Linked DNA regions of Homo sapiens: region 1 is linked to region 2. Evidence: fine-mapped expression QTL. A gene starts in region 2. The other region holds a variant in brackets. All regions are shown on one strand. Distances are between the middles of the regions.

Region 1 (16,451 bases), 19 kb before region 2:
GGCAAAGAACATGAACAAACACTTCTCAAGAGAAGACATTTATGTGACCCACAAACATATAAAAACAAGTTCAACATCACTGATTATTAGAGAAATGCAAATCAAAGCCACAATGAGATACCATCTCATGCTAGTCAGAATGGCGATTATTAAAAAGTCAAGAAACAACAGATGCTGGCGAGGCTGCAAAGAAATAGGAACTTTTTCACACTGTTAGTGGAAATATAAATTAGTTCAACCATTGTGAAACACAGTGTGGTGATTCCTCAAGGATCTAGAACCGAAATACCATTTGACCCAGCAATCCCATTACTGGGTATATACCCAAGGGAATATAAATAATTCTATTATTGATACATGCACATGTATGTTTACTGTAGCACTATTCACAATAGCAAAGACATGGAATCAGCCCAAATGCCCATCAATGATGGACTGAATAAAGAAAATGTGGTACATATGCACCATGGAATGCTATGCAGCCAAAAAAGGAATAAGATTATGTCCTTTGCATGGAGATGGATGAAGCTAGAAGCCATTATCTTCAGCAAACTAACGCAGGAACAGAAAACCAAACACCACATGTTCTCACTCATAAGTGGGAGCTGAACAACGGGAACACAGGGACACAGGGAGGGGAACAATACACACTGGGCTCTGTTGGGGGTTGGGGGAAGGGAGAGCATCAGGATAAATAGCTAATGCATGTGGGGCTTAATATCTAGGTGATGAGTTAATCTGTGCAGCAAACCACCATGGTACACGTTTACCTATATAACAAACCTGCACATCCTGCACGTGTATCCCGGAACTTAAAATAAAATATAATATTTTTAAAAGGAGGAGACTAACGGCTTTTAATCAGAAGGATGATTTGATATGGCTGGGCGCCGTGGCTCACGCCTGTAATCCCAGCACTTTGGGAGGCTGAGGTGGGCGGATCATGAGGTCAGGAGATCGAGACCATCCTGGCTAACATGGTGAAACACCATCTCTACTAAAAATACAAAAAATTAGCCAGGCATGGTGGCGGGTGCCTGTAATCCCAGCTATTCAGGAGGCTGAGGCAGGAGAATGGCATGAACCCAGGAGGCATAGCTTGCAGTGAGCCGAGATCGCACCACTGCACCCCAGCCTGGGTGACAGAGCGAGACTCTGTCTCAAAACAAAAACAAAAACAAAAAAGAAGGATGACTTGATACAATAAAACATATACATATTTGCTAAGTGGAAAACGGATGGTGGTTGACCAAGAATGGAAGTGGGGAAGCCAGTCAGAAGGAAGGCAATTGGTTCAGGAAAGAGATGTCAGAGGATTGAACCAGGGCAGGGGTGGCGGAATAGAAAGAAAGGGGCAAGTGTGAAAGTTTAGGCGATAGATTCAATTGGACATTCTGATAGATTGGATATAGGAGAGGAGGAAAAGCAAGATTCATAACCAGAATCCAGGCATAAAATCTAAAAATCTTCCCTTGCTTGGGGGTTCATCAAACCTGTGCAGACTTGTGGCCATTTGCCCATAATTATTGGAATTTGCATTTTGGAACTAAGTCAGAACCAAAGCAGTCTCTACAAGGTTAGACATAGGGAACCTCCTTGGGTGGCCCATTCATTCCATCGTGGGCAGCACCCTGGCTTAAGAGACAAGTAGGCAAAGTAAGGGAGGGAAGAGAGAGCTGGCTACCATAGAATGTGGAGAACAAATTCTTTTAGTGATACCTTAAATTTAAAAACAGAATAAGAACTACAGGTGAGTTAAAACTAAACAAAGTGGAGAAAGGACACCCTATTCAACAAACGGTGTTGGGAAAACTGGCAAACCACATGTAGAAGGATGAAACTGGATCCTCACCTCTCACCTTATGCAAAAATCAACTCAAGATGGATCAAAGACTTATATCTAAGAGCTGAAACCACAAACAGTCTAGAAGATAACACCAGAAACTCTTTTAGATATTGGTTTAGGCAAAGAATTCATGCCTAAGAACCCAAAAGCAAATGCAACAAAAACCAAAATAAATAAAATGGGACCTAATTAAACTAAGAAGCTTCTGCACAGCAGAAGAAACAAAGAAACAAAAATAAACTTCTGCTCAGCGGAGTAAACAGACAACCCACAGAATGGGAGAAAATATTCACAAACTATGCATTTGACAAAGAACTAATATCCAGAATCTACAAGGAACGCAAAAAAAAATCAGCAAGAAAAAAAACCATTAAAAAGTGGGCAAAGGACATGAATGGACAATTCTCAAAAGAAGATACACAAACAGCCAATACACATATGAAAAAAATGCTCAGCATCACTAATTATCAGGGAAATGCAATTTAAAATCACAATGCAATACCATCTTACTCCTGCAAGAATTGTCATAACTAAAAAATCAAAAAACAATAGATGTTGGAGTAAATGTGGAGAAAAGGGAACACTTTTATGCAGCTGGTAGGAATGTAAACTAGTACAACCACTATTGAAAACAATGTGGAGATTCCTTAACTAAAAGTAGAACTACAATTTGATCCAGCAATCCCACTACTGCATACCTGCCCAAAGAAAAAGAAGCCATCTTATGAAAAGGACACATGCACATGTATGTTTATAGCAGTACAAATCGCAATTGCAGAGATATGGAACCAACCTAAGTGCCCATCAACCAAGGAGTGGATAAAGAAAATGTGGTATATATACACCATGGAATACTGCTCAGCCATACAATGAAATGAAATAATGGCCTTTGCAGCAACTTGGATGGAGCTGGAGGCCATTATTCTAAGTGAAGTAACTCAGGAATGGAAAACCAAATACCATATGGTTCTCACTTATAAGTGGGAGTTAAGCTATGAGGATGCAAAGGCTTAAGAATGATATAATGGACTTTGGGGACTTGGAGGGAAAGGAAGGAGGAGGGTGAGGGATAAAAGACTACATATTGGCTATAGTGTATACCGCTCAGGTGACAGGTGCACCAAAATCTCAGAAATCACCACCAAACAATTTATCCATGTAACCAAATACCACTTGTTCTCCAAAATCTATTGAAATAACATAAAAATAGAAACTAAGAAAACCAGGGAAAAGCAGCAAGCATCTTCATGTATGCAACTTCCAAATGGTTGGTGGAGAGAATATATATATATATATATATAGAAAGAGAAGGAACACATACGTGATAAAGCATATAGGGCAAAAGGCATATGAAAGGGCATATGGAAATGTTTAGCGCTATTCTAGCAGATTTGCTGTGTTTGAAATTATTTTCAAATGAAAAGTTTTTTTAAAGCATGCATTAAGTTTCTTGATCTATGGTACCCCTTATAGGTAACAACAGTGTCACTGAAACAAGAAAGAGAAGTGGGAAACCCTGGCCCCTACTGGTGCTGACAGCCATCAAGAACCAGTAAAGTTTTGATGCCCTTCCTCACAACTAGAGGAAAATGGAGGGTCATCTGCAGCCGTTGCTAGCTAATGTCCCAGGATACCTCCCCAGACAAGACATGCACAACTCAGGACCCATCAGCACGAGACACTAGTGCCTACATGAAATTAAGGCCAGCAAGAACCCAGAGGGCAGTATAAGACCAAAAACTCCTCATGTCCGTCACCAGGAGAGTATACAAGCATCCCTTCCCTAGAAAGGATGAGGGGAAGGGAGACCCCATGAGAGGGCAAAAATAGCTCTTAATGCATGTTTGCACTTGGAATGAGCTGAATGTTTACAGAAAATGGACTACGATAAACCAAAAATGACTGTGTGACCTTGAAGTGGCTTATTGAAGAATCCTTCAAAATGAGCTCACATTGGTTGAAATAAATTATATATTTTATGCTTTTTGCATGTTACATTTATAAATTTTGACTGCTTCAGGTATATAACTGCTCATTGATTATGATTCCAGTTGGAAATATGAATGGATATGTGTGGAGGTGCAGGCACAAAGAAAAATGTCTGGAGTAAAATATACCAAAATGTTAATGGGGACAAGAAAACAAGTGATTTTCATCAATTTTTATTTGTTGTATGCATTTTGAGAAAGAAATTTGTATTACTTTTATAATCAGGCAAAACTAAATCAATAGAGATTTCTTCCTTAGAAAAATGGAAATGTCATCAGGGAACAAGGCAGAGCACCACACATTATTCCATCCTAGCCTTAACTAGTTATTAATTTTTTTTAAAAAAAGATTTCCTTTCTGTCCCATTTATGTCAGCAATGAAGCAATGCTGTGGTAGGAGAAATTCCCATTGATGGATTTTTGTTAGGTATGTCAAACACAGTTTCATACATATTTGTCTACCTGCCTCAAGTACAAACCCAAAGTCCACATACAATTTTCTTTGCAGTGATTCCCTAAGCTTGCTACCCTGGCTCTGCCCACAACATGCATCTGATATGTGTTGTTGCCTGGAATTGCTTAACTTTTAAAAAATACATTCTTATACCTAATAGATATTGCAAAATCTTGAATTCTTCCTTTCTTAAAAGACTCTGACTCTCTCAGATTCAGAGAAGCACACATACACCCCTAAATGAGTATAATGGACTGATAGATGCAGCCTGCTTCATTTGACTTTTGCTGTCTTTCTCTTAATTCTCCTCTTTGCCTGATTGTTCACTCTCTTTTATTCTTTCCCTTTCACATCTTTTTAAAAATTTTTCTCCCAATAGGTAGATTTTTGTCTAACAATCTTTACCTGTTTGTCAATATAGGCTGATGATGTGCCTATGAAGAAGGAACTCCAAAGAAGGAACCAGGGGACCATGTATCATAATATATCCTGTCCCCAAATCCACAGACACTGACCACTGACTCTCTCTCTCTGTCTCTCTCTCCCTCTCTCTCTGTCATACACACATGCCCACAGACACACACACAATCATATTACTTATTTGCAAATGCCCACATTTTACATGAGCCATTATTCTCCTTTCGAATTTAAAACTTAATTAAATTGAAAACAATTCTTTTTGGAAAAAGATAACTTGCATTCCTCTTACTCGTCTTGAACCTGGTTGCATTGACTCCGGGTTGAGTTCAAATTAGAGTCTAACTGTTGCATATCCCGATCCCGAGGACTGGGATCTTTATGTCTCTCCCTATCAAACGTGTCCTGGAAAGATACACCAAAAAAAAAAAAAAAAAACAGTCTGAATACATTAAATGACATGGATGAATTTTTAAAAAACAGCCCAACTCAAAAGAGCACAATTATGCACGGCTCCATGCACATGAAGTTCTAGTACAGGCAAAATTAATCTAGAGTGATAAAAATCAGAAGATGGTTGCCCTGGGGAAGGTGCAAGAAATGCTCTAGAGTGATGGAGATGTCTGATATCCCAATAGGGATGGGAATTTACACAGGTATATGCATTTGCTGAAATAGCAATCTATGGATTTCACTGAATATAAATTATACCTCAATTTCCAAAAACAGTTTGAAATTCTACATCTTTATACCTAGAATAACACCCACACAGAGGATAAAAACCTGAGAAGCGTCCATAAATTCTCAGGGAAAAAAAATTACTTAATGATAACTGAAGTCTATAAAGTACTTAACATGTGTCAGGCCCTGTGTAACTTGTTTAGTGTGCTTATCACATTTAATTCTCACAAATGAACCTTTTAGATCAGCAAAACCATTGTCTCCATTCAGCAAATAAGAAAATTGAGACATAAATGTTTAGATACCTACCCAGGGCCATAAAAGAGGGACTGGTTTTCTGCTCAGTGATCTCCAAGCAGGGATCCTTCAGCCACTATCTTATAATGCTCTTGCTCAGAACAGACTAAATGCTTTCTTTCTGTTATTATTATTATTATTATTATTATTATTATTATTTTTACTTTAGGTTCTGGGATACACATGCACAATGTGCAGGTTTTTTACATAGGTATACGTGTGCCATGGTGGTTTGCTGCACCTATCAACCTGTCACCTAGGTTTTAAGCCCCACATGCATTAGCTATTTGTCCTAACGCTCTCTCTCCCCTCACCCCTGCAATCCCCCAACAGGCCCTGCTGTGTTGTTCCCCTCCCTGTGTCCATGTATTCTCATTGTTCAGCTCCCACTTATGAGTGAGAACATGTGATGTTTGGTTTTCTCAGAACAGACTAAATGCTTTCTAAATGCTTCTGTTTTAGAAAGGATTATAGGTAAATCCATATAAATGTTTCAAAGTAAAGTAACTAATGTTTTGGTTGCCCAGATGTAATGATGTGGATGCCTTAAGCAAGGTATGTGCGCTCTTTCTAGTCTGATCTCTACCTGTTCAAAAACTAACACCGTCCCATGGAAACCACCAATATCCATCACAAATTGTGACACTCTATCAGTCTACCAAAATCAAGTCCTCTTCTTCTCTTGGAGGTTTCTGATTCGTTTTATCTCACTGTTCAGAAAGTCAAGGGTTATCCTTCAGCATCCCTACCTGCAGAGAGGGGACCTTGCTGTCAACAGATTTTCCCAGGGAAGCAGCAGTAAAGGAAGCCTCCAGCCAAGGCAAAAGGCGTGACTTGATTGTTTCCACACCATCATTACGTCCTCCTAAAATGTTAAATGACGAGTTAATGGGTGCAGCACACCAACATGGCACATGTATACATATGTAACTAACCTGCACGTTGTGTACATGTACCCTAAAACTTAAAGTATAATTAAAAAAAAAAGAGAGAATACACACATCAGGTCATCAGGTCAGTGAGAGAAACCCAACCACACCAACAGTCAAAGAACACAAAAAAGCACCAAGAAAAGAGAGAAAGGCAAGCAGAACTGGATGGGAAATTACAGGCCATTCTCACCTTCTTGGGCTGCTGCTGTGAGGATCCCAAAGAGTTGTCCCTGCACCTTGGCAACTTGCTCAATGAGTTCAAGGCAATGGTTTAGATTTTGATCACACGTGTTTGTCTGCAAGGGCAAAACAGTAGATAACCAGGGTAATTACTTCACTCTGGGACCCACTGCAGACAGACCAGGGCCTCACTTGACCCACGAGCTGCCTGGCTCTGGTATGCTTTTGTGGCAGGACTGCTGTGTAGTCACCAAAACCTATCTCCCTTTCCTCCTGGACACAAAACTAGACCACATTTCACAGTTTCCCTAGCAGTTCGTGTGGCCATGTAACTGAATTCTGGTTAACTGGATGGGAAGTGATATATGCCTGGGGCCTGGCCCAGAAGAGAACCTCTTGAATGACTTTTTTTTCTTTTCCCTTCTGCCAACTGAATGCAGAAGAGCCAAGAGAGGATGCTGAGGGCATAAGGGATGGTGGAGCCACAAGATTTGCAAGGCTGCTGACTGAATGCTTGCACTGAATTGTCACATGGTTGAGAAAGTTGGTTTGTGTGTAAGCCACTGAGATTTGGAGGTTGTTTTTTATAGCAATAATCCTACTCAGTAAAACCCTACAAAAATACATTTAAAAAGTAAATAGACCTGTTATAAGACAATACAAATGACTGCCGAATTTACCTGCTTTATTGGTTCCTGTCCTCTACATAAATTCAATTTGTATATATTATATATGCATAGAGAACATTACTTCTTAACAGCAAGAAGGTATTGCTGGGTTGAGGATATAAGGGACTTGGCACTTGCAGACTCGTGGGGCAGACAGATGAATAGCCAGTTACTCTGCAGCGGAATAATAAGTCTTACCTACACAGATGAGCGCAAGCTCTACCCAAGAGTCCATTGTCTTGGAAAGTCTGGGAAGGCTTCCAAGAGGAAGTGAAATCTAGTCCAAGGTGAAATTAGCCAGACTTGGAAAAGGAAGTGGTTCCAGTGGTTGTGAAACATTCTAAGCAATGAGAACAAAACATGAGGAGGCCAAGAAGTGAACCTTTTAGCTATTATTCTGCTTTCCTCATTCCTTTGAAAGATTCTACCATTTCAACATAAGCCAAATCTCTAACTGACTCCAACATTAGAAGAAGGAATACAACTACAAGCAACAAACATCATGTGGTTGTAAAAATGCATCGATTTATGTGTCACCTCAGGGCTCAATAAGGCATCGGTCCTTGGTGCCTCCTGGACACAACAAATCCCAGAACAGAAAACAGCGTACAAGGCAGATAGAAACTAGGAGTGGAGTAAGAGAAAAGTTGAGATAATCTCTAGGCAAAAGTTTACAAGTCAAAAGCACATCTGCATCAACCAAGGAAATGGTTCAGACAGGCAGAAGCTCCTTGAGGACAGAGACTGGGCCTGTCCTGTTGGTTGTTGTATTCCCACCCCTGCATTCTACAGTGCCCCTGTATTCAGAATCATTGTGTATTGGATGGATGCATATAAATGAGATGATTCACTCACTTTGTATTTATTATATCTCTCCTATATGCCAGGCTCTATTAGTGCTTTACATATATAAACTCAGCTAATTCTCTCACTAGTACAATAGGAGCTAGAAGAATTATTATTATCATTCCCATTTCAGATGAGAAAGCTGAGGCACAGAGAGGTTAAGTAACTGGTTCTTGGCTACCCAGCTAGTAAATTATCAGAGCTGAGATTGGACCCCAGCAGCCCAGCTTCCAGAGCCCATGCTCTTAACTACTAAACTATACTGACTTTTAGATCATGATTCTTGCTGGGAGTACATGGAGGACTGGATGATGCAACCAAGAGTGAATGGGGAGGGCATCCAGGGAAGGCTTCTCTGTGGAGGGGACCCTTGAGTATTCCTGGGTTATAAGATTCAGGGAAGCACAC[C/T]ACTAGGGAAAGAGCTTACCAGGCAGTGGGAACAGCAAGGACAAAGGTTCTGTGACAGGAACAAGTTTGGCAACCTTGAATATGTCAATGTGGCAGAGGCACAGAAGGACATTTAGAGGTTGGCAGGGCAAGTTGACCTGGAGAGCCTTTCGCACCTGGCATGGAGTTTGGATGGGATGGACTTGTAACTGAGAGGGCAGCTGGGTTAATTTCCATGCTTGGTAAATGGTACCTGATGACTAATTCTGTTGTAGCATTGATTTCTCCTGCAGCCATTTTTTCTCCATCTCATCCATCTAATCTCTCCTCCCAAAAAGATCATGAGTTCTTTTTAAAAATGATATTGCTTTGCTCATGTTTGTATCTATTGCCACTAGTATCCTAGCAAATTGAAGGGTCTAAACAACGTTGATGAATGAATAATTTAACAGTGTAATGTTGACATGATAGAGCATTTAAAACCCATAGCCTGAACAGCTATCTCCATTTCTTCCTCGTTAATTCAGCAGCTCCTTGCCCTGGCCATTTTATACCTGCACTTATTACACTGAACTTCAATTACCTGCTTACAAGCCTTTTGCCCTCTGGCTAGATCATTCCATGTGCTAAGTGGACGGAGAATGAGCTTGGGAGTCAAGCAAACCTGAGTATCTCAGCTCTGCTGCTTGCCACAGTTCTATGTGACCCTGCACAAGTTACTTAACTTCTCTGAGCCCATTCCTCTCCCATGCAATGGGGATAATAATGCCTTGTGGAGCATTAGAATTAAATCAAAATAATACACGCCCAGCACCTCAGACACAGAAGGTGTTCATCAATTGGCACCTATGAGGTAGCATGCAGTATTGAAAGGAGCCAGTGGCTTAGGAATAAGGCAGACCTTTGTTCAAATCTGGTTCTCAACTTATCAGCTGCATTCCCTTAGAAAAGACATTTAAATATGAGGCTCTGTTTCCCTCTGTTTAGGAGGTAGCTGATCTCATGAGCAGAGTCTAGCATAAAAGAGGTACACAATAATTAGAAGTATTATTGTGGTATCATTACTATCTATTCCTATGCCTTGCCCAGTGCCTGGTACATACTGGGTACCCAGAGGAATGGTGGTCAAATGAGTTTTTAAACACATCTTAAATAACAGGAGAGAATATCCTATGCCACACAGTTCCCCTTCCCAAGACATGTTACAACATGCTGCAACTTCTAAACACAAAGCATTGCACAAGATAATCAAGTTGCAATAGGGTCACATTATTCTAGTAAACACATACTTACATACCCACACAAGACAACCAGAGCAAAGATATGGACTAATTATACTGTCTCCAAAGCACAGACTCTCCAGATTTATTCATTCATAAATCATTGAGTTTCTATTATATGTAAGGCCCTGGAAACAAAGCTCAGGAAACAAAGCTATATTAAAAAAAAAAAGTTGCCTGCAGTCAGTGAACTAATTAGATGGGGAAGTGAGATGGAGAACAAGATAAGAACAAGGGGATAAATAATTACCTTAGAGTTTATATTAAGTGCTCTGTGTGGATAACAAGCTATAGGAGCAGAAAAATAACCTCTGGTGAGGTGTGAAGGGTAAGAGGGAAGGGCATTTCAAGAGGAGGAACAGAAGGCACCAAGGCATATTAGCGGAAAGTGAGTACAGGGTCCAGAGACCAAGTCTGAAAGACTTGACTTGCCACATTAAGGGTCTTGGGCTTTATTCCATCATCAAAATGTTTAAGGATGCAACAGAGGAAGGTGGGTGTGACATGCTCATATTTGCTTTGCATGTTACAAAAATCTGTCTGGCAAAAGCAGACCAGATAGACTTTGGGTCACAGGGTGAGTCTGGTGGGGAGGTAGATGGGTATAACCATCTAGCTGAGAGATGCTGGAGGCTATAGACATACTAAGGGTCTCCCAAAGGTCCTTCCCAGCCCCAAATTACACCTGTGCCAGTAAAGGTCCCACCGATTTCAGCATTACCTAAGAAGGTCAGAGAGTTTAGAAATGAGTAAGAGGTATGAGAGGGATGATCCTGAGTTTGGGTTTGAACAAGTCAGGGGGCCTGCAGGACCTTCGGATGGAATGTCCAGTAGTGGTACCTAATAATTACTGATCACCTACTATATGCCAGCCAGGCCCTGTGCTAAGAGCTTTATATACATGGCTCCATTTAATCCTCAGAACAATCCTACAAATGGGATGCCATCATCATCCAAAATTCACCACTGAGGAAAAACAAATTAAGTAATTTGAAGAGACAATGGTGGAGACCCATTCCTGCAGCCTCCAGCACTGGAGCTGAGCTCTCAAACACAATGCTTTCCCCAAAGCAGATGGAAAGTAAGTCTGGAGCTTAGAAGAGAGACAGGACTGGGAGGTGTGGCTTTGGGAGGCTTCAGCAAGTGGGAGAGTGCAGAAGCCACATGCACAGATGAGATTACCAGGGAGAGGAAAGAGTGAGGAGAGGGCTGAGGGCAGAATGAGGGGCAATTTTGCTATGTCAGAAGTGGTCTGAGTAAGAAGAGCCAGTGAATAAAAAACAAAACAAGAGCAATCAGAAATGAGAGGACACCCAGGAAGCAAGATGAAGAAGAATAAGGAGGCCGAAGAAGCAGATGGTTTCAAGAAGCAGAAGGGCATGGTTTATTCATGCATTTATACTCTCAAGAAATTTTATGGAGACGCCACTATGCAGTAGATGCTAGGGACACAATGTCTCCTGCCCTGGAGGAATTTAGAGTCTAAGATAAACACGAAAATAAATGCAAAAACACATGCTACTTACTATAATAAAAATTGGTCCAGATTTCAGAGGTAAAACTCAAAAGAGAAGCTGGTAAGGGCCACGAAGTTTCAGGAAAGCCTTTGCCTGAGGAGCTTTGTGGGCTCCCACTCCTAGAAATTGATTTAATTGCTCTCGCGTGGGGCCTGGTCATTGGAAACATAAAAGCTTTTTAGACAATTCCTATATGCAATGAAGATTGATAACCACAGCATTAGTGGGTAACAAAACCAATTTAGTGAGTCTCAAACAGCAAATAATACTAAAAAGAAAATAGAGAAACACACCACAATGAGTAAAGGTAAGAATTATTAATGAAACTTGAGTTTTTAAGTATAAGGGTTTATGTGTGCTATATTGTGAAGTAAAATGCATTGAGTCCTGTAGGTAAGTTTTAAAAACAATGTTCTAGGGGACAATGCCTTGCCTGTGTTGAGAATCACTAGTATTGGCAATGAGAGCCATAAAAATGATGCTTCAAACAGCTGTATCAAAGTTGGATTGGAAGTGGGCATGAATGAAGGCAGGGAAATGAATAAGAAGTTTCCACGTTATAAGTGTAGAACTGAAATAAGTAAACTTCAAACACATTCTAATGGCTTTGTGCAGACAGGAAAGCAAGAGTTAATAGAAAAGAATAAAATATTCAGGAATACAACCACCAACATTATTAACATAAAGACATGTTCTTTTAAAGTCACTAACCCCTGTCACACAAATATGGGCTAAGAGCCTCCTTTGGCTACCATGATTGCTGCAAAAATACTGCTAGTTCTGTTACAGGCAAAATTTTCTGGACTGCATGAAGCTACTGTTAAAATAGAGATCTTAAGACTAATATAACAGACTCTTTACAGCAATAAGATAAAGACCTAAGGTCATGCCAGGCAAGGATTAAGTCACATACCCCTACACATAAAGAATCAACCATGTTCTAATTGTCAAAAGGTTTTTTCTTTTTATCTAGTAGCTAAGCAAGTACTGGCCTCGAGATAAACAATGTTAAAACAATTGCAACTCACTGACCACCAGACTCTGACTAACTGATCCCCTCCCGTTCCACAGTCCATAACTGCAACTTCAACTGGATAAGAGACTGATTTCAGTAACTTTCTCTTGATAAGAGATCACGGACCATAGGCTGGTTCTGGCCGGTCCACAGAGGCTGTACACTAAGTTCCTTCATGTCCCTGCCTCCACCTTTGATGTATAGGGCCTAATTGTAATACATTTAAATGTTAAGCTTCTACCCCAAAATGAATATAGGATGAACGTAACATGCATGTTTGCTTACTATGCTTGTGAGCGTTCCCCCTTCGTGAATATTACCTGTTGAATATGTATACATGTGGCCAACCCATTCATCATTAATTCCTGCCTTACCTTTCCTACCTCCAAGTGCCTGCCTCTGGTTTCAGCAGGGGCCTGCTTCCCAGCCTGCAGGTTGCTACCCTTTCTAAGAAATAAAGCTCTCCTAAGAAAGTGAGGATGTTACTATCTCACTCAAATATCAACAGGTGAAAAGTTTTTCAGGCAGAGAAAACAGTGAGTGCAAATGCCCTGAAGCAGAAGCATGTCCACATCTCTAGAACTGTGCTGTCTGAGACAGCAGCCATGAGCTGCATGTGGCTATCTGAATTTAAATTGGACTTAAGTCAAATTAAAAATTCTGTTCTTCAGTGTGTACTTGCCACATTTCAAGTGCCCAATAGTCACCTTATTGGACAATGCAGATATAGAACCTGTCCATCATCATAGAAAGTTCTATTGGACAGCATTGCTCTAGGACGAGCAAGAAAGCTGGTACTGCTGGAGTGGGCTGAGCAAGGGAGAGAGTAACAGATAAGGTTAAAGAGCTTAAAGGGGCACAATTGTGTAGGACTTTGAAGGTCACTGTAGGAGCTTTGGCTTCTTCTGACTGAAATAGGAAATTTGGAGTGTCTTGCAAAAAGAGTAACTTGATCTGACTTGACATTTAGAAGCATCTCTTTGGGTTGTTATTTTTGTAATAATCCAGGTGAAAGATGATCAAGGATGGAGAAGGGTGGTAGCAGTGGGGGTGGTGAAAAGTGTTTAGATTCCGTATGAACTTTGAAGTTAGAACCAACAGATTATGATGGTGAAAAGGGAGTGGAGTATATAATGATGAAGACGACTTAGAAAAATGAGACCTGTGGTTGGGGCATGGGAGAGGCTAAATTCCATTTTGGACAGATTTGACTTTGAGCATTCTGAGCATTTCAATAGCATTCACTATTGAAAGATGTCCAATGGGCAGTTGGAGAAGTGAGAGCTCAGATGGGAACACATCCTATAGAAATAAGATTCATCAGCATACTTGTAACAGATGAAGCAGGAGTGGAGGGGGAAGAATACAGGTGTCAACATTCCAATGTGATAATGATGCCTGCAAACTCAAGAGAAATGATGGAACCTGGGGAGTGGCCACAAGGTATGAAAAACACTGGTGGCTGTGAGTGCAGCCTCTACTGTAGAGAGATGAAGGGAAAACAGCTGGATGGAAATGGTTTTAATGAGAGCAGAGAATGGGATGTTATCAAGACAGGAAAATGTAATAAACTAAGGCACTTCTCATCACTTACAGGGAGTTTCTAAAATAATTGTTTATTAGTTCCAGACAAATCCTAGTGTTATTTGTAATAAACATTGTGACAAACAACATGTTTTTTTAAAATTCAGAGTTTAGTTAGGCCACTGGGCAAAAAAAAAGGGGTAAATACTGTATACATGTTAGAATTTCTTATTCTCAACCTCCTGAGACTAAGTAGTAGGTACTTTTAAAATTAGTTGGGGGGAACCCAAGTCTTTTATGATAAAGAGGTCATTTTAACTTTCCAGAATTCTTAATGGAGAAGGAATGGTCAGCGCTTGTTCTTTAAAAGGGAGCAAAGGACTGAACAGGAAGCACTAGAAAGGAAGGCTAAGGAGAAAGCTGTAGCTGCTCTTTGAGCTCCCCTCCACTTCAGGAGCACTGGTTAAAGGGTGAATGGGGAAGCCTAAGGACCTCATAACAGGCAGGATCTCAGAAACAAGCTAATCTAGGCTCAAAAACTTAAAATCTGAACAGGAAATTTACATATCATCTAGACCAATCTCTGCTATTTCACAGATGAGGTACTAAGACCAAGAGAAGTTAAATAATTTGACTCCGTCATTCAGCTAGTTCTATGCAGAGCCAAATGTAGAAACAAGGGGGGGCTAATTTCCGGTCCACAGTTCTTTTGCCTGGCCGCTCCACTTATTATGTAAGAGGGGAAATCCCTATTTAAGACGGACCGACCGAATGTAAAGCAAATTCAACACTCACCGTTCTATTTGGGGGAAGGGGGGAATTATGGGGAGGCAGGGTGCGAGTAGGGATTAATGAGATTTGAAAAGTGCTCATGGGTTTGGTGACAGAATACTGGCTTCTCACAAATGCCTGGAAAAAGGCCTGAATCCGCCCTGGTGTTGGAACTGTGCCTCAATTTCCAGGCCCACCAGCACGCAAGTGAAACCCGCAACGTTAACAAGTGTCCGTTTCGCTGATTTCTGGGTAAATAACTCCTGGGTGTGTGTTTATACAAATCCATTCTGATACAAACCCTGGGCAGGAGAGGGTTGTAGTAAAAAATAATTCGGGATTGGGGAAGCAGGCGGTGTGGATTGCGCTGGCAAGGGGGATGGGAAAGAGTGGCAGGCATGACCAGACCAGCCGCGGACAGCAGGGCTTCCCTATTGCTAGGTCGCCGGCGTCCTTAGTTACCACTGATTGGAAGCACTCTCCAGTCTCCGCAGCCTAGTGCTGCGCTCCGCAGGCCGCCTGCGCGCCGCCTCCCGAAGCTCTGAGACAAGGGCATGTACACACATGTCCTTCCTTCCCCAGCGATCCCGGTCGAAAGCTGAGATCCTGGTTAGGAATCGCAACCGCGGAGGCTTTGCAAAGTGGCCACCAACTCCAGCCCTAAGAAATCCCCGACAAGGGCTGTGCTGGAACCTATGGGAGGGCGAACCCCGGGGGTTTTTCACCCAGACTCACGTTGTACTCCTTCAGCCAGAAGTCTAGCTTTTCCTGCAACGTTCGTAAAGTTTCGTTTGAGACCAGTCTTTTCAGGTTTTCCGCCATCGCTCACTATTCCTCTCGGCCCCACGCTGCGCGATGGAGACTTGGGGGGACCAGGCGGTGGCCTCCGCAGGACCGTGGGGTGATATGGCGGGAAGGGTGTTCTCTTCTGGGGGGCTCAGAGCGCGGCAGGTGTTTCCATCCTCCCCCTCGGGTCGGACCTGGCCGGGTTCGGGAAGCCAGAGGGGAGGTGCCCTGGGCCGCAGCCGCCGCGCCTCATCCGCCGTCCCGCGCGGTCTCCTGGCTCCCCAGCAGCCGCCTGAGCCCGGCCATAGATACCCTGGCGATTATTAAACAAACCTTGACGTGGACGGGTTGGCTGCCAGGGACGCGCGCGGCCCGCGTCGTGGCAACGCCCGCGCCGCCCCGCCCTGGGTGACAGCCGCGCGCCCCAGGGGTGGACTGAGACGCGCAGCCGCGCGGGCTGGAGGGCAGCAGGGCGTCTACAGCATTCCTCCCCATTCGGGGTTCTGGGTGCCCACGCGTGTCCAGAAAAGCAGAAGTTAAGTCTCTATAGAAGTTTGGGGCTAGGCTCTCAGGAGATCACCTCTTTGGCCCCTTTATTCTTTCGCCTTTCATTCCTTTAATTCTTCATTTGTAGCGCCTTGGGTTTACCTGTATGAAACTTGTAACTAAAATTTCAGTACTTCTTACTTCTAGCTTTTACTTTGTTCCTTGACCCACTGGGTGGGTACCCAAGTTAATAGAGTTTAGCTCCAGGATGTTCACAAATTAAAGTTAATCCCTCAGGTTTGGATAAGATTTGGCAGTATGTATTTTAGTACTTTTTTTTTTAGAGTCATTGAGCACTCTAAAGCTTCATTTAAT
Region 2 (12,466 bases):
ATGATTGATGTTTAAAGTACACATACTAGCTGTTTCAATGAAAACATATTTTATTGGTACCAATCTACAATGTGTTTGCTCATTTCCAAAGAGTATTGGACAACCTAGATGAAAGATCTCTTAATAAATTTTTTTAAAAAATATGTAGAAAAAATCTTGATATTATTGTTTTGTGAAACCACCTTTGATGAATGCTGAAGGAGTAACGCTAGAACAGCTCATCAAAGAGCAGGCCAAGTAATTGACACTCCATTTTTAGTTCTCAGGTGATGTTATTTGATACAAGCTTAGAACTTGCATACCTGTTGGAATAAGTGGATGTCTTCGTAAATGCCGTTAATGATGGTCCCCTCTGCAGAGCTTTTGATGGGTGCTAAATAGCAATCAATTTAAGAGAGAGCAAAAGCCTAGAGTGCAAATAGTTTATATTGCTAATTAAAGAGTCCATGTGTGTTAAATTATAAGCATGTAGTCAATATGGCTGAGATTCTATTTTAAAAGTTGATAAGTCTTGGCCGGGAGTGGTGGCTCACGCCTATAATCTCAGCACTTTGAGAGGGCAAGACAGGCATATTACTTGAGGCCAGGAGTTTGAAACCAGCCTGGCCAACATGGCAAAACCCTGTCTCTACTAAAAATGTAAAAATTAGGTGGTGCACATCTGTAGTCCCAGCTACTCGGGAGGCTGAGGCATGAGAATCACTTGAACCCAAGAGGCGGAGGTTGCAGTAAGCCAAGATGGCGCCACTGCACTCTTGTCTTGAGTGACAGAGTGAGGAGACTCTGTCTCAAATAAATAAATAAATAAAAGTTGATAAGCCTCGTTTTTTTCACATATGACAGAAAATATCCGATAAGTAATGATTCTCTTTGGGGAATATTCTGATGCTCAAATTTTGTCCTAATTTGATTATTTTAGGACATTACCAATTAAGCAATTTTGGGAGAAGTTGAAAGAACAGCAAACTCAAAACATAAACACTGTTGCTTTATCTCACACTCTGCCAATTAGTGAATTCTTATGACTTCATATAAATCTTTAATCACTTGGAGACATTTTTTTCATCTATAAAATGAGTAATATGGAATAGATGAGCTCCCAGATCCCCTGCAGTTCTGACAGTCTTTAATACTGTTTTACCATACTGATTAGGTTCAAGATTGAGCAAATCTTGATCTTTGTTTCAATTTTTGGTTCATAGTTCACCTTAGGTCAAGCATTGATTTTGGGCGCATTAGCCAATCACCAAAAGTTGGGCTCCCTTTTTTAGTAAAATTTATTCTGCCAGCTTGCTAGAATAACTACTATTTCTAACCTCCAGTCAAGGAAGTTCTCTATAGTTGCACTTTTAACAAATTTAAACCCAGCTTAAACTGATAAACTTTTCCTAATTACCTCAACCCCTCAGAGCTCATCACTTTCTTCTTTATGCTTTCTCTCTTTAACTTTTGGACATGTTAATATTCTTGCAATTATCATGCTATATTATATTTATTTGCTTCCTATCTAAGCTTTTGAGCTTCATGAGGAAAAGGAGAGAGGCTTATTTAGCTTCATATCCTCAGCACAGCAACTGGCACATAAGAAAGAAGAAACAAGTTGGGAGCCAGGAGGAGGAAGAGAGGAAGGAAAAGGAAACAGATTGGAAAGGAAAGGATGTGATTGGCTGCTTTGTATCTGATGTCATAATCCACTGAGATAGAAGGCAATTTTAACAGCCAATTCGTGGTTCTTACGGTGTCATAATTCTACTACCTAGCCAGGAGTGATTTGTTCTAGAAAGGATAATGTGTCAAGTACGTAGATGGAATAGGGTTTTTGTTTGTTTTTGAGACGGGGTTTCACTCTCGTCACCCAGGCTGGGGTGCAATGGCATCATCTTGGCTCACCTCAACCTCCATCTCTCGAGTTCAAGCAATTCTTCTGCCTCAGCCTCCCGAGTAGCTGAGATTACAGGCATGCACCACTACGCCCGGCTAATTTTATATTTTTAGTAGAAACGGGCTTTCTCCATGTTGGTCAGGCTGCTTTCAAACTCATGACCTCAGGTGATACGCCCACCTCGTCCTCCCAAAGTGCTGGGATTACAGGCGTGAGCCACCATGCCCGGCCTTGGAATAGATTTTAATTTTGTCTACCCTGGATTTTTACCTACATCAGTCAGCTTGAAAGATTTTTAATTGGGCATTTTAAGAAGCCAACAAAAGATGAGCTGAATCCACTGCCTGAAGTGAGAGCTGAAGTGAGAGCTATGTATATTTAGTTCACACTACACCAAACATAAATATATGCAATAAATTACAGGGGATTATATTACGCAGTAGGATTTTCATCTTAATTTCAAGTCTTCTTCACTAAGGACAGTTGCTAACCCTTAGCCAGGGGCTGATAAGAACAACCTGTGTTTGGCTTGGATGCTCTTTTAAGCACTCCTCATCCTTTCCTGGCTGAGCCACGGTATTCTTCTCCTTCTGCTGTCTGTGTTTGGATCTTGTGTCTTTGGATCAGGGCCTGTATTACTATTTGAAGAAAATCTTTTAGTCTTTGCTGACCCACTTGCATAAAGTTGCCTTTAAATGCAATGTTTATCCAAGGTATTGCTTAGGCCCTTTGTGCTCAGAGGCACTTTGTTCTTGTAGGTAGCAAAACACTTCTTTGTCCACTTAAGTGTTTTCTAACCTGAGTGTTCTGTATTCTCCTTTCAGGAGTTCTGTTTTGTCCTTTTCTCTGCCACATTAAGGGAAAGGAAAATATTTTCTAAAAAACACCCATTGGAGAACAAATGAATTTATTGGGAACTGAGTGGGAGGCAGGTTCCCCCACTGACAGAAGGAAGAATGCTGTTTGCTGTGTCATACCAAGGAGCACTACCCACACAGAGCAGCAGTTCAGAATTTTTTTGTACAATTATTTCATGTGCACTATTGATTAAACTATAAAAACAAGAGGAAATTTTAAATATATCACAAGTGTATCACCTTAGCCCCTAAATAAACTATAGAACATTTGCAACAAATACAGATTAGAAGGAGAAAAAACCCAAGGTAGATGTAGTGTGATTTTGGAGAGCTGCAAAATATTTTTCCTATCGCAACCCAGGTTTCCATCATAGGTTTTTCAGAAAAGAAGGCGTCCTCACCCTCCATCTTTTCAGCTCTGCTAGCTAAATGCAATGGCAAGGTCATGGTTCTGTGAAAATCCCCCGAGGAGGAGTAAGCTCAGGACATATCAAGCTATTGCAGAGACACAGTGGATATGGTCTACCTTGCAAGATGTCCTTAAGCACATCAGGAGAGGGATATGGGATAGCACGAGATAGTCCCTAGGATGAGTGATGTTGAAATAGATCCTTTTCAGCACTTTTAATAAACATTTACTGGATTTCTAGTGTGACACAACCATCTGCCTTAAGCATGGACAGAATTAAGCTCAGTCTCTGTTCCCTAGAATCTCATAATCTATTCAAGAAAGAGAAAAGCAACCATACTTCAATGTTGTCAGTTAGAGTAGATAAACGTTCTGCGGAAACAATGACTCCTCCTTTGCCTCCTTTCCCATCTTCTGAAAAAGGATCAGGGAAAGTCATAGAAAGGTAATGTTTAGAGCCTGTTTTGGAAGGATGGAGAGACGTTCACCAGGAAGAGAAGAGCAACTTGAAACAGGAAGAATCATAGCAAAGAGGCATGAAATTGAATGGAGGGGCAGAAAATGACAAATAGTAGTCCAATGTGACTACAGAGTAGTCAGGGAATCAGAGACAAGACTGCAAAGATAGTCCTGGTTTCAACTATGATGGGTCTTATGTATCAGGCTAAAGGAATTGATCTTTATTTCATAGGCAGTGGGGAGGCAGCAAAGGGCTGTAAATAGAAAAACTGTATGATTGGGTCTCTTTTATATCACATTGGAGGTCACAGAGGTTAAGTATGGAAGGGGCAGAACTGGACCCTTGAAAGAGCACTTAGAAGACACAGAGATGAGGGTTAGTCTAGTGGCCTTCTCTGGGGTATGGTATGGTGAGCATTAGATACCGATGTCAGAGATACTTAGATGCTAGTAATATTTTTTACCCAATAGAAAAAATTAATTTAATATTCATCAGAGCTATTAAGTATGTATTATATACTTGGTTCTTAATGTGTTCAGGACTTAGAGCAACATGGAAAATAATAACACATTACCTCTGCTTTGTAAGGAACTCAGTCTAATCAGAAGCAAACTGTATATGCATGAAAAGTAAAGTAACAAGATACTGCACTAAGTATCAAATGGGTGTTACAGCAAATTAGTGCAATAATAGTTAAAAGGAAAGAGGAATAAGGACTGGCTGTGATTGTCAGGAGGAGGTAGGACTGAGGTTGGTTCTGAAAAATGGGAAGAATCTGGAGAGGCATGAATTCACAGATAACTAAAACAGATGGACAAATAAATAAATTTCAGTATAGTGTGATGTGACAATAGCAGCATGCTTGGGGATCACAGAGAGGTCCACACAAATCAGAAATGTATGATTGGGAGAAGGTTTAAGAAAGGCTTTTCAGAAAAGATATCCCTTGATCTGAGTTTTAGTGGACAAGTAGAGACAGCTAGATTAAAAGGAGAAAGAGCCACATATGCAAAGGAACAGAGCCATTAAGAACTTGAGTTCGGGCAAGCAGATGGGGGCTGCAAATATTGCACAGGGATAAAGGGATAGATTACTTTGTCTCTGATTCCCTGACTCCTCTGTAGTCACGTTGGATGTGTGTGTGGGACAGGCAGGAAACAAGGCTAGAAAGGGGCAGAAGGACCAAAAGTTTCTAACCTTTTGGTGAAGGACCAAAATTTGGTGAAGGACCAAATATAAGGAGCTTAAATTTTATCATGAAAGGTATTGGAGTATGGTAAGCTTGAGGGTGAGGAGTGACATGATCAGATTTGTATTTTAGAAAGATCATTCCAGAAATAGTATAGAACTACTTTGAGGTGTCTGACTAGATGGTGATATCATTCACTAAGGGAACACAGGAGGACCAGATTGGGAAGAAAGGTTTTGAGTTCAAATTTTTCATGTGTTGAACTTGAAGTGTGTATTTGTAACACACAAACTTGGTGGCTTTAAACAACAGAAATTTGTTGTCTTACAGTTCCAGAGGTTAGAAGTAAGAAATCAGAGCCTTCTGGAGGCTCTAAGCGTATATCTGCTCCATCCCTCTTTCTTAGCTTCTGGTAGCGGTTGGCAATTATTGGTATTCCTTGCCTAGTAGAGTGATCACTCCAATCTCTGCTTCTATGTTCATATCATCTTAGTGTATGTTGCCATTCTGTCCTCTTATAAGGATAAGGGCTCATCCTAAATTCAGAGTGATCTCAAGATCCTTAAAAACATCTGTCTTAGTTCATTTGGGCTGCTATAACAGAATATGGACTAGGTGGCTTATAAACAACAGAGCTTTATTTCTCACAGTTTTGGAGGTTGGGACATCCAAGATCAACATGCTTAGAGATTTAGTGTCTGGTGAAGGCCTGTTTCCTGATTCATAGATGTCACTGTGTCCTCACATGGTGGAAGAAACAAACCAATTCTCTTGGATCTATTTTATAAAGGCACTAATCCTATTCATGAGAACTAATCATGAATAGTGATAGCTAATCACCCATCATTTCCTTCTATGATGTGAATGTGTCCCCAAAAATTCATGTTCGGAAATTTAATCTCCAATGCAACAGCATTGGGTGGTGTTGCCTTTTGAGAGCTGTTCAGGTCATAGGGGCTTGGCATTCCTCCCCTCAGGATGACAAGGTGTTCAAGGTAACATCCTGGAAACAGAGACCAGACCCTCATCAGACAACTGAACCTGCTTGGACTTCTCAGCCTCCAGAACTGTGGGAAAATAATTTTTTGTGCTTTATAAATTCTTCACTCTCAGATGGTCTGTTATAGAAGCACAAAGTGGACTAAGTCAGCTTCTAAAGGCCCTACCTCCTAATATCATCACACTGGGGGCTAAGATTTCCACATGTGAAATATTCAGGGGAGACACAAACATTCATTCTATAGCAATCTGCAAAGACTCTGTTTCAAAGTAACACCACGTTCACAGATACTGGAGGTTAGGACTTGGATATGCCTTTTTGCAGGGCACTATTCAAACCACTGCAAAGTGAACAAAGGTGTAAGTGTCTTCATAATCTGACTCATACTCCAGCCCTGGGGACCTGTGTTTTGTGCTTCCAAATGCTAATATCATGCAACAGTCAAAAGAAAGAGCAAAATTAAAGGCTGTGATGTATGGTAGAAAGAGCAAAGACTAGTCAGATGGACCTAGATTCAATACTGGCTCTTTAGGAGTTGAAAAGATGGTCAGCCATTTAACCTCTACAAGCCTTGATTTCTTCATTTGTAAAAGAGGCATTGCCAGGCACAGAGTTGACTTTAAATGTCATTATTTCAGGGGAAAAAAGGCTGACAATAGTACATTTGAAAATAACCCACATTAAAATGTGGTCATGTGAGTGAATTGGATCTCTTTAAAAGAGAATAGAAATTGGCATTAAGAATAGTGGGATGTCCTGTCAGAGATGGACATCAGCGATGAGGAAAGAATCCAAGAGAAGGTGATATTCAAATAGCCAAAGGAGCATTTGGTTTCAGGAAAATTGGCTACCAGGTATCTCACCACCTAAGTGGGAGGGAGGTTGGCAAAATCAAGTCAGGGCTTAGAAATTGGGATACTGGGCAGATTTCTAAGATATCTATTAAGTTTAATTACTGTGCTAGACATTGGAGATTAAACGATGAGTAAGACACCTACCTTCCAGATAGAACACACCATCTTTTGAATGAAATCAGCAGGTAGACAAGATAAAAATACAATGCAATCTGAAGTGCTAGAAAAGGCTAGGCACACAGTTAAGGAACAGATCTGTGGGAGCCTCTGAAGCCTTTAGAGAAAATATGACGTTTGAATAGAATAGTTCTTGAAGGATGAATAAGAGTGCGCGTGCCAGGGAAGAAGAACTTTCCCAGCAGAGAGAAAAACGCAAAGCTTAGGAATTAAGGACTAGAAGATAGGAACTCAGAATCAGTTAAAAGCCCAGTTGTGCAAATTGATCAATGAGACCACAGGCAGAATATTAACACAGAGCCTTACTGCTGACTCCTGCATCATTGGGCTTTAACTTAGAATTTTCCTGCCTAAAATGCATGTTTGTCCCACAGACTCAGAGAGGAGTGAGTCTAGAGATATGAGTCAAGTGGTTCCAGCATTTAGGAAAAAAGAAATGCAGAGAGACTGATGACCAGCTAGGTACTGACTCCCACTGAATTAGACAGTACTAGGGCCCAAAGGTGCTTATTAGAAGTGATTCAGCTACATGAGGAACAGTTGCTATTGACTTCACTGCATTTTTTTTCAGCTAAAATAATTATTGGATTATATCTACAACAGGGAACAATGAATGTCTACTCAAGTAACTCGTACATTTGAGTGGCTTCCCGGTGTTCAGTAAATGTCCGTTCAATTAGGTTCCCGAGGATATACATGGTAACACTATCTCCAACACTAAATGAAAAATCCATCCCCAGTATCGCAGGATAAAAACATCAGACTTCATAGGCCTCCGAAGTCAAGCAGCCCGAAGGATTCAACGTCCTCCTTGAGGACTCTCAGTCTTCAAGACTCCAGCCACCTAAGTGACCACTCGTTCACTTCTGCCCACGCAGTCACCACGCCGGTCCGCGTCCACTTGTGGTCTCGATATCGGCCCCTCCCACCCTAGCCAAGGAGACCTTGGTCCGAGAAACAAAGAGAGCCTCACAGCTCCGGATGGCACCGATCTTTCAGCGATGGGGAACAAAGGGGAAGGGGAGAAGCGTCCTCGATTTTTGAGGGTGCCCTTTCTGAGGAATCTGCAGGCGGCCCGGGGTGGAGCGGAATCCCCATAGGCCCCTTCTGGCCCCTGTGCAATACAACGCGCCCCAGGCCAAGGTCCTAGGTGCAGGGGCCGCCGCAGAGCCTGAGCCCGCAGGGCTGGGATGCGGGTCGTCAGGGATGCGGGCTGGGGAGGGGAGGGTGTGAGCAGCGGGTGCCCCCAGTCCCCGCCAGGGCGCAAGCGCAGGCGCGCAGGGTGCGGTCGCGGAGGGGCGGGCACAGTCGGGCGGGGAGCTCGGCGGCGGCGGGCGCGGGAAGATGGCGGCAGCGGCGGCGGCGGCTGCAGAACAGGTCTGTGAGTACCGCCGCGGCCGCGGGCTGGAGGAGCGGGGGAGGCCGCGTCCTGCCGGCTGGGCCCGCGGGAGCCCTGGCCGGGGGTGCGGGGGGCGCGGGCCGCAGGGTCTGGGTTCGGCGGGGCCGATCGGGGCGGGGCGGGGCGGGAGGAGCTGTGCCCCGCCGAGGATGCTGGCACAAGCTAGGGACCAGGAGCCAGGGGCGGCCTCGGGCTCGGCCCGGCCTGGCTGATCCTCGGAGGGGGTGAGGAGGGGTCTCCTTCCGGAGAGCCTGGGAGGCGGTCGAGCCAGCCTGGAAGCCTGCGCTGGGACGTGCCAGGGACGTACCCCGTTCAGCCGCCAGCAGAGATTTGGATAAAAATAACCGCAGCCCCAGCGAGAAGGCTCCTCTTACAAGAAACGGGTCAGCTGTTGCCCCGGTGTCAGCTTGCCATCTTTGTTTTTTGTTTCTGCCATCTCCAATATGCAGACATCCCAGATTTCCCCTCACGCTTTGGTTTTTGAAGATTTAGTCACCAGTCTAAAACTATCTCCTGTTCACTTTTAAAAATGATTTATCCAAGATTTCCTGACCTGCATTGTAAACTTGTAACTTAGAATGGTTTAAAAGGCTCCTCATCCCCCCAAAATCTAGTTATACGTATGCATACATGTACATGCATATGTGTGTGTGTTAATATATACATACACGTAATCGCTAGGGTGATTTATTGTAATACAGATAATTTTCAGTAACTTTCCCCCTTACCTAACTTACTTTTCCTTTGAACAATTATAGTAGTTTCTCTTTAAAAAGTCTCATTCTAAAACATTGTTGAAAAAAATGAGTCAAGTTTTGACCTTTGGAACGATTTTCTTAGATAATTAACTTTTTAGAGACCTATTAGATATATGTCACTGGAGGGCTCATTCTGAAGATAAAAGACGTAAAATCTCTCTTCAAGGAGCTTAAAGTCATACAGCCAAATACATGCAGAAAAAATCAGCTAAAGACAATAGGCAGGCTGCAGATTTGTAACAGTAAAATAAAACATAGAGGAATGAGTGAAACTGAAAGGAGACAAAACTTCTTGGAGTTGGTATTTAAATTGTGCCTTGGCTTTCCTCATTTCCCGCCTAAGTTATCAGCTTCTGTTTCAGATGATTGTTTTTCCATCTGGTTCTATTTTTGCTTTACACATAAGTGGGGCAGTCTGATCCGTTACTCAGTCTCCACTTCAAATTTACGCATTACGTCTCCAGCCCTGAACTTAACTGAATTTTCCATAGGCACCTCAAACTCAAAAATGTTCAAAACTGGACTCTGTCATACTTACTATTAAAAAGGCTACAACCATCCATTCACTTGTTTAACCTAGCCAGAAACTTAGGACCAAGGCCATTTTAAGGGAGCTGAGAAGGACCTGCACTTGGTTTAATGTTCTGCTGTCCTGGGCTTGAGATTTAAACAGTGAGCCCCACATTTTCTTTTCCCCCTGGGCCCCACAAATTATATAGCCAGTCCTATTTGGGAGTCATCTTCGACCCCTTTGTGCCACACTCATATCCAAACAATCACGAGATCCTGACAGTTCTACCTCTTAACACCTTTCCCCAGACTTCAGCTTCAAAGTCAAACCTCAGTCAGTACCTCATTGGGACTCTTAGAGAAACCTGCTGTTGATATCTTCACTTCTAGGCTCTTCAGTTCCAGTTCATCTCTTTTTGGAGTGATTTTACTACAATGCAAATCTGATTGTATAGGAAACCTATTTTAACTCTTCAGTAGTTCCCCTTTGCCTTCAGGATAAAGTCCATTGTTCTTGTCATGGTATTTATGTTGCTTACTGGCCCCTAAGCACATCTCTCATTGTATTTCTTGCTTCATCCCTACACCTATCCTTCTCACCATCCACATAAAGTGACCAAAATTAGTTCTCCCAGAGATGGTTGCCTCTCAAAGTCTCCATGCTTCTTCCTCTGCCTAGAGTGACCTTCTTAGCTCTTTTGCCTGGTTAACTCCTGTCCATCCTTCAAGAGTTAACTCAACCTTCAGCTTTTCTTAGAAACTTTCCCTGATGCCCTTGCCTGCTAGGTGGAGATGCATTCCTCTTCTGTACCCTTTCTGTATTGTATGCATTGCTCCACTACAGCACTTGTCATGCTTTGTGAACTGTTAGTCACCTTGTCTGTCTACCTGACTGGCCTGTAATTAAGCTCCTTGAGGGTGGACACTATGTTCATCCTGGTAGCTTGGAGCACCTGGCTTATAGTAACTATTCAATAAATGTTAAATGCATCAAGATGAAGACAGTAATGTGCATGGTTTGGCAGAGAAGAGTAAAGACTACGTCTCAGGAGGGATGAATTTTGTCCTTTCTCTCTTTTATGTGGACCTATATTCAAACTTTGGCTAACACTTTTAAGTTGCCCATCTGTTAGGGCTGTCAGAAGCCTGAGGTTCTTTTTTGGAACCTGACTACAAATTCTGTTAAGTCTTCTCTTAAAGTATCTACTTAATCTCTCCTTTTTCATCCCACTTTAGTTTAGGTCCTCTTAACCTCAATCCTCCATTACTACAACATCCCCAGCAGCTTACTTACTGGTACTCCTCTTTCTTCTCTCTCGTACAAATGCCCACACCTTTAACACTCTGAATTTGTGCTCAAAAACCTCCAGTGACTCCCAATTAAATAGAACATAAAGACTAGAATTTGTACCCTGCTGTCCAAGAACCTTCACAACCTGGCCCTACTTTTCCAACTTCCTCTTCCCTGCCTTGCCATATCTGACCCATCTACTTCTCCCCATTTCCCTAACAACTCCAGGTCATCCTGTCTCTCCTCCCTTTGAACTCTGCAGTGTGTATTGCCTAGACTATTGATTTTGGCACCTGAACATACAGAGTGCTTTATTGCATTGTTAAATATTTTATGTTAACATGTACACAAATCATATCTGTTAATACATAGAGGATAAGGACCCTTTCCTATAGTTCTTTTGTATTCCTATCTATGGAATTAGTGTTTAAGCGTAAAGTGCTTAATACATGCGTATTCAACAACTGAATTTTCTCAGAGCTTTAAGAAATAAGTAGGACAGTATCCATTTCTGCCCATTTCTTTTGTGCTCTTGATATTCAAGATTATTACCCAAAATGTCATTCAACCATAGTCTAGGTCAGAGGTTCTCAAATCATTTTGGTCTCAGGTTCTCTTTACACTCTTAAAAAATGGAGGATTCCAAAGAGCTTTGGTTTATGTGGGTTATATTCATTGATATTTACTATAGGAGAAGTTAAAATGGAGAAATTTTTAAAGTACAGGGCTATACAAGCATACATTCTGTTGAGTGATGATGCCATCACATTGGTCATGTAGCCTTTACATTCATGGGCCTAGGAGAGTAAAAACAGCAAACAGTATCTCAGTGTTATTTCAAAAATACAGCCCCCCAAAGGGTTTGTGGAACCCTCCCAGGACTCCCCACCCTGCATTTGAAAACTACTGATCTAGGGTAATGTGAGCTCTAGTCAGTGAAATTATAAGTAACAAACTATGTCAGCCTTTCCGGTCTTATTTTCATATAAATGAAAATATATACCGTTGTCCCTCAATATCTATGGGGGATTGGTCTCAGGACCCCCAAAGGATAGCCAAATCCATTGATGCTCAAGTCCCTTATATAAAGTGGTGCAGTTTTTGCATGTAACCTCTGCACATCCTCCTGTATACTTTAAATCCATCTGCAGATTACTTACAACACTGAACACAATGTAAACACTATGTAAACAGTTGTTATACTGTATTGTTTAGGGAATAATGACAAGGAAAAAGTCGTACATGTTCTGTACAAATGCAACCATTCCCTTTTTTTTTTTTTTTTTTTTTTTTTTTTTTTTTTTTTTTTTTTTTGAGACGGAGTCTCGCTCTGTCGCCCAGGCTGGAGTGCAGTGGCGGGATCTCGGCTCACTGCAAGCTCCGCCTCCCGGGTTCACGCCATTCTCCTGCCTCAGCCTCCGGAGTAGCTGGGATTACAGGTGCGTGCCACCATGCCCAGCTAATTTTCTTGTGTTTTTAGTAGAGACAGGGTTTCACCATCTTGGCCAGGCTGGTCTTGAACTCCTGACCTCGTGATCCACCCGCCTCAGCCTCCCAAAGTGCTGGGATTACAGGCCTGAGCCACCGCGCCTGGCCTCAAATATTTTTGATCCACAGTGGTTAAATCCATGGATATGGATCCCATGGATATGGAGGGCCAGTTGTATACGTAAAAAAATT

The links. PIP is the estimated chance that this variant, and not a neighbour inherited with it, causes the effect.
Region 1: its variant is fine-mapped to the expression of SGCB in whole blood (INTERVAL, PIP above 0.99).

What each region holds. Positions count from the first base shown.
Region 1 is chr4:52,050,880-52,067,330 of GRCh38, reverse strand. SPATA18 (spermatogenesis associated 18) reads right to left here and starts at 16,027. Exons shown (of 13, transcript NM_145263.4): 1 at 15,540-16,027; 2 at 6,807-6,912; 3 at 6,434-6,549; 4 at 4,999-5,111. The coding sequence starts at 15,626. RefSeq lists enhancers at 15,235-15,584, 15,377-15,876, 15,877-16,378 and a silencer at 15,755-16,054. The variant C/T (reference allele first, on the strand shown) is at 8,719.
Region 2 is chr4:52,033,966-52,046,431 of GRCh38, reverse strand. SGCB (sarcoglycan beta) reads left to right here and starts at 8,133. Exons shown (of 6, transcript NM_000232.5): 1 at 8,133-8,205. The coding sequence starts at 8,173. LINC02480 (long intergenic non-protein coding RNA 2480) reads right to left here and starts at 1,627. Exons shown (of 3, transcript NR_147189.1): 1 at 1,397-1,627; 2 at 303-407. RefSeq lists a silencer at 7,921-8,360 and an enhancer at 8,601-8,720.